Regions from separate parts of the Homo sapiens genome. Here region 1 is linked to region 2. Evidence: fine-mapped expression QTL. A gene starts in region 2. The other region holds a variant in brackets. All regions are shown on one strand. Distances are from middle to middle.

Evidence for each region. PIP is the estimated chance that this variant, and not a neighbour inherited with it, causes the effect.
Region 1: its variant is fine-mapped to the expression of LDLRAP1 in whole blood (INTERVAL, PIP above 0.99).

Annotation. Positions count from the first base shown.
Region 1 is chr1:25,568,047-25,570,945 of GRCh38, forward strand. It overlaps LDLRAP1 (low density lipoprotein receptor adaptor protein 1), which reads left to right. Exons shown (of 9, transcript NM_015627.3): 9 at 1-840. Among named protein-coding and RNA genes, the nearest start is that of LDLRAP1, 26 kb to the left of the region's middle. RefSeq lists enhancers at 1-193, 194-917. The variant T/C (reference allele first, on the strand shown) is at 1,528.
Region 2 is chr1:25,542,420-25,545,318 of GRCh38, forward strand. LDLRAP1 (low density lipoprotein receptor adaptor protein 1) reads left to right here and starts at 1,187. Exons shown (of 9, transcript NM_015627.3): 1 at 1,187-1,367. The coding sequence starts at 1,280. RefSeq lists an enhancer at 857-916 and silencers at 1,017-1,476, 1,507-1,686.

The sequences.
Region 1 (2,899 bases), 26 kb after region 2:
TGCCTCCTCCTCACGCAACTCACACCTCCTTTTCTTCTAGCTTTGTTGTCCTCCCAGGAACCAAAAAACCCCAGCTATTTTCTGACCAAAATGTGTTTCATAACAAACCATCTGGTGCCTTTCCACACAGAACTGGCAGGAGCCTCGTGTCCTGCTAGCTGTCTCTCTTGTTGATTTCCGTGAAAATGCAAGTGTTTGAAGTCTGCTCATTCCGAGGGTGAAACAAAATCCAACCCTGTCAGAATCATGCTGTTCTCTTTGCTGACACTGTGACCCTGGGTCGGGACAGACCAGCAGCAATCTGTCTTTAGAATCGCTTTCCTTCCTCCCCTTTTGCCCCCGTGGGGCTCCCGGCATCCTGAAAGCCAGCAAAGCCTCCAGCATCTTTTCCATCCTGAGGTGCCTCCCAGTGGCCTGGCTTGTCGGAGCAAGTTTCATCAGCCCTAGGGAAAACACGGCCCTCCTGGGAACCTCCTTACCTGGAGTAACCGGACACCTTAGACGGAGGTGCCTGAGGGTGGGGTGGGATTTGCAGGGTCATTATCAGAACATGAGGATAACTTCCTTGCCCCTGCTCTGTAGCCACCTCCTTGGCACCGGCCTCTATTTGTCATAAGGCGGCGTGGGCGAGGCCTGACACAGGCCAGCCTTGGCACGAGGGGGGCCAGGGGTTCTGAGAAGCGCTGCCCTGTGAGAGCCACGCTGGCCTTCGTCTCCATCTCTGGTTGACGGGCTGTCCGTGTGCCTCCTGTGTGTCTGCAGACAAGTCTTGCTGTGCTTTATTTGTGAAACTTTAATGAGGAAAAAACAAATAATAAATGTTCTCGTTTTGAAACTCAAGCAACGCTCATCAGGTGGAGTAGACTGGCGGCAGCGTCCGGCGGCTCCTGCCCTTTGGGGATGGCAGCAGCAGTGACCACAGGCTGGGTGGGGCCGCGTGCCCAGGGGCAGCACTGAGTGGGGGTGATGGTCTTAGGTTCCTGGGGTTGAAGGCCCAGTGGGGCCCCCTTTTCACCCAGCAGCTGGGTGTGTGTGTGATGAGGTCACCTCTGGATGACTCATGGAGGCTACACCAGGGATCTGGTGCATCGGCTGAAGCGTCTGAGAGCCCCGGCGGGGGACTGTGGCCAGGCTGTGAGTCCCCTGCAGTGTGCATGAGGTTGTGTACGTGTCCACGTGGGCGTTTTCCACAGAGAGGATGTCCATTATTTCCATCACTTTTTGGATCCGCAACACTTTATCATTCCACAGACTTGCTCCGGGCTGAACGTGGACTGGGCCTGGGTCTCAGTACTGGGGACAGGGGTCCAGGCGTGGCCCAGATGAACTCAGGATGTGTGGTTTGGGTGTGTTGGGGGATGGTGGGAAGTATTTCAGTGTCTTGAGAGACTCAGGGTCTAGCCCTAGCTCTGCCACTTGGAGGCTGTGACACTTGATCAGTCACCTCTTGAGCCTTGATTTTCCCGTCTGTGAAAATGGTGCAATGACCTCCCCGCTTTTTACCACCCTGGGTTTTGTGTGACTCAG[T/C]GGTGACCATCATCACATTGTTGGTAGAACACTTGTGCATTCAGGTTATCTCAGAACCAAAGGCAACTGGAACTCAATATGTCTAAAAATGGTAAAGTAAAATAGTTAGCAACCAGTGTTAACTGAGCTCTTACTATGTGCCGGGTGTTGTGCTGAGCTCTGCACCATATTGCAACGGTTGTGCTGAGCGCAGATGGCAGATGGCATTAGCTCCCGTTACTGCTGAGGACACTGGGCTGGGAGAGGAAGGCAGCTGTGCTTCAAGTGCTGGGCGGGGCCACAGCTGAGCCGCCAACCTGTGTGGCCCTTACCCCGCCATGTCCTGGCTTCCCAGGAGCCCAGTCTGGCCATATGCTGCCCGAGACCACCTGTTGACCTGTGCGGTGACCCTCACAGAAAGGCCACTCTCTTCAGGTTCTTTCAGCCACTCTCCGGAGATTCCCCAGGCCTCTGCCCCTCAGCTGTGGCTTGTGGGGGTCCACTTGGACATGTATCTCTTTATCCCTTTGAAACTGGTATTTTAAGCGTCCAGAACCCAGAGGCAGAGCCCTCATATCAGCATCAGGCTGACTCCCTGTGAATTCTCAGTGGTTCATGGATGACTAAGAAATCCTCCCCTTTCTTCTTTCCCTCATAATCTGAAAAGACACCCAACAAGTTTATCTTTCGGTTTAAATTTGGCCAATGTCTTTAGTCTCCGGATGTCTCGGATTATGAATCCTGAGCGCCAGCCGTCTGCTCTTTCATGCATAAGGGATGAAGCCAGGGAGAACAAAGTCGCCTTTCAGATTTGACGTGACTTTCAGCTTCACTGGGTGGATGTTGGGGTCTGCTCTCCCAGGAAGAGATCCCATCCCATGTACATCTGGGGACTTTTCAACAAGCCTGGCTAGGGAATAGGGGCAGATTCACATCTGGGGGGCTGGCTTGGGGCCTGGTCTTCCTCCGGCCATTCCCAGGTGCTCATCAGAGGAGGTGCCCGTTTGTATATTAAGAAGTAACCCGGCCGGGCGCAGTGGCTCACACCTGTAATCCCAGCACTTTGGGAGGCCGAGGCAGGCGGATCACGAGGTCAGGAGATCGAGACCATCCTGGCTAACACGGTGAAACCCCGTCTCTACTAAAAATACAAAAAATTAGCCAGGCGTGGTGGCGGGCGCCTGTAGTCCCAGCTACTTGGGAGGCTGAGGCAGGAGAATGGCATGAACCCAGGAGGTGGAGCTTGCAGTGAGCCGAGATCGGGCCACTACACTCCAGCCTGGGCGACAGAATGAGACTCCTTCTCAAAATAAAAATAAAAATAAAGTAACCCTTGGGCCTGTTAGGTCTTTTGCACCTAACACTGGTGATACTAGTCCTTGCAACCTCACAT
Region 2 (2,899 bases):
AGACTCAGAGAGGGGAAGTACTTGCCTGAGGTCACACAGCAAGTCAGTGTCAGGGGCACGTTCCAGATCATACCATCTGTGAGGCTACCTGGGAAGTTGCGGGGGCATGGGGTGGCCCAGCATGCTCAGGTGGTGCCAGGGAGCAGCCTGGGAGCTACGAGGATGAGTAAAGTGCCTGGCTGGACTTGCTAAAGGCAAATTTTTATATACCGACCCTGCGCCTAACAAGGGTCTATACTGCAAGCTTGTCCAACCTGTGGCCCACTGGCCATGTGAGGTCCAGGACGGCTTTGAATGGAGCCCAACACAAATTGGTAAAGGTTCTTAAAACATTATGAGATTTTTTTGGGCAGGGTGTGGTGGCTCACAGCCATCCCAGCACTTTGGGAGGCTGAGGCGGGCAGATCACTTGAGGTCAGGAGTTCGAGACCAGCCTGGCCAACATGGTAAAACTCCATCTCTATTAATAATACAAAAATTAGCCAGGCATGGTGGTGCATGCCTGTAATCCCAGCTACTCGGGAGGCTGAGGCATGAGAATAGCTTGAACCCGGGAGGTAGAGGTTGCAGTGACCCGAGATCGCACCACTGCACTCCAACCTGGGCAACAGAGTGAAACTCTGTCTCAGGGGAAAAAAAACAATACAGAAAAACAAAAAACATGAGTGTGTGTGTATATATATATATTTCAGCTCATCAGCTGTCGTTAGTGTTAGTGTATTTCATGTGTGGCCCAAGACACTTCTTCTTCCAATGTGGCCTAAGGAAGCCAAAAGTTTGGATATCCCTGGCTTACAGCCTCCACTATTTCCTAAGTCTCCCACTGCCCTGGACATCGCATTGCTTTTGTCCCTGAACAAGATCTTTCACCACTGGAGGAGCCCTCAGTCTCCCCATCTGTAAAATGGTCACTGGAAATCCTAGGCCGCTGCTCTCAGGCCCTCAGGCCCCTACGGGGTGGGGATTGGGGAAAAGGAGGAAAGCGGGGGCGTCTAGGGCTTGCGATTTGCTATCTTCTGGCGCCTTCGGGCGGCCTCGGAAACTCTTGGTGCCTGGACCTGGAGCCTGGACAGGGACCGGGCGGGGCGAGACCGGCCGTCGGGGGCGCGGCCCGTCTGGGGGCGGGGCCTGTCCTCTCTCGCCCCGCCCCGTCGGACGCCGCGGCGGAGCTGGCGCTGGGAGGGGAGGAGCGCGCAGCCCGCGCGCCGCAGGGCCGGGCGGAAAGTTTTTCCTGACGGAGTTTTGGCTGCGGCAGCGGCGGCGGCGGCCGGAGCGGGCCATGGACGCGCTCAAGTCGGCGGGGCGGGCGCTGATCCGGAGCCCCAGCTTGGCCAAGCAGAGCTGGGGGGGCGGTGGCCGGCACCGCAGTGAGTGTGCGCGCGTCAGCCGGGCCGGGCCGGGATCGGGCAGAGGCGCGCGGGGCCTCCGCGGGCGCCCGGAGTGCGGCCAAGTTGGGCAGAGGCGGGGCCTCACCGGCGCTCCGGTCCCGGCGTGGCCCTTTCCCGGCCCTGCGGGGCAGGGGGTCGGCCGGGGTCAAGTTGTGCACCTACTCGCCGGCCGCTCGATGCCGCTGCGAGGAGGGGCAGCGCTGAGGAAGGAGCCCGAGCTCGGGGTCCTCAGGTGCAGCCGGCATGGGGTGGGGTGCAGGTTGGGAGAAGAGGCCCCCGCCACCCGCGGCACCTCCCGCCCTGCTGTCCTGGCCAGCTAGGGGGAGGCAGGCGCTCGTCGTCGGTGCCTAGGGGAGGAGGAGAGGGCGCAGGGGCTTGGGAAGACGCCCCCGTCCCGCACCCCTGCGCCCCAGCCAGCAGCTGCGGCGGTCAGGAGCCCACTGGCCCGTTCTCCCGCCCCCTGCCCGACCCACCGGGCCAACTTTTGACTCCGGGTGCCCAGACACCCATCCAGGTGTGAGCCCGGGGTCGCAGGTACGTACTTGAAATTGGGAACGAGGCCCCGCCTGGGGTGCCTCGGGAGAGCCCCACATCAGGCGATCTAGACCCTTACGTCCCTTCCTCTAGCCGGGTCCAGGTGGCAAGCCTGGCGTCCCGACTATTTTTGAAACCTGTTTTCTCTCGCACCTTTCCCCTCGGGCTTCCAGAGTCCCTTGGGTGCCCAGGCAAACGACAGACTCGCCGCCACCTCTCCCTGGGGCGTCTGGGAGGCTGGGAGGGGCCTCCCCCCCTTTCTCTCCCCCAGTCTCTGATTACGCTCAGGGAACTTGTCACCTGGCACCTTCCCCTGAAGCCAGAAGACCCAGCCTAGCGCAGGTCTCGTTGTTTGGGAGGGAGAAGAGAGTGGCTTGCCTGGGGTCACACACACCTTCCTGCTGGTTTTGGAGCCAGAGCCCAGGACTGCTGCACACTCCCACCTCCCTGCCACCTACTTCGGGCCACAGCTTCTCCCCTCATCAGGAAACAACTGACAGTACAGCACCCCCTCATCCCATCCCCTCTTGGCCTTACAGGGCTCTGCCAGGGGAGCCCGAGCTCCCTGGTCCAAGGAGTGCCAGCGTGTCTGGGCCTAGAGGGCCCGCCTCCCTCCTCCTCTGGCCCCACTCTGTTGTTCAGCTGTGGCCGCCTCCCAGCTGAGACTGGCATTGGCATTGGGAATGTGGGGTGGTGCCTGCTGGTGGGGGGTGGGGTCAGAGACCCATTAGGGCTGGGCCACTAGGCCAGGGGATGTACCGTTTATCACACTGATTGCATCCCAAAATAGACCCTTTAAAAACTGGCAAGATTTGACCAGGACTTCTGAGATGGCCATCTGTTCCAGTGGGAGAATCCTGCGGGTTTTCTCCAGGAATGAGGGAGGGAGGGTGGTGGGGCAGCCCCCAGGGAAGTGGTTTTGAAGGAAGGGGGGCTGGCAAGGGAAGGGAGGCTAGAAAGAAATATCTCTGAATCTG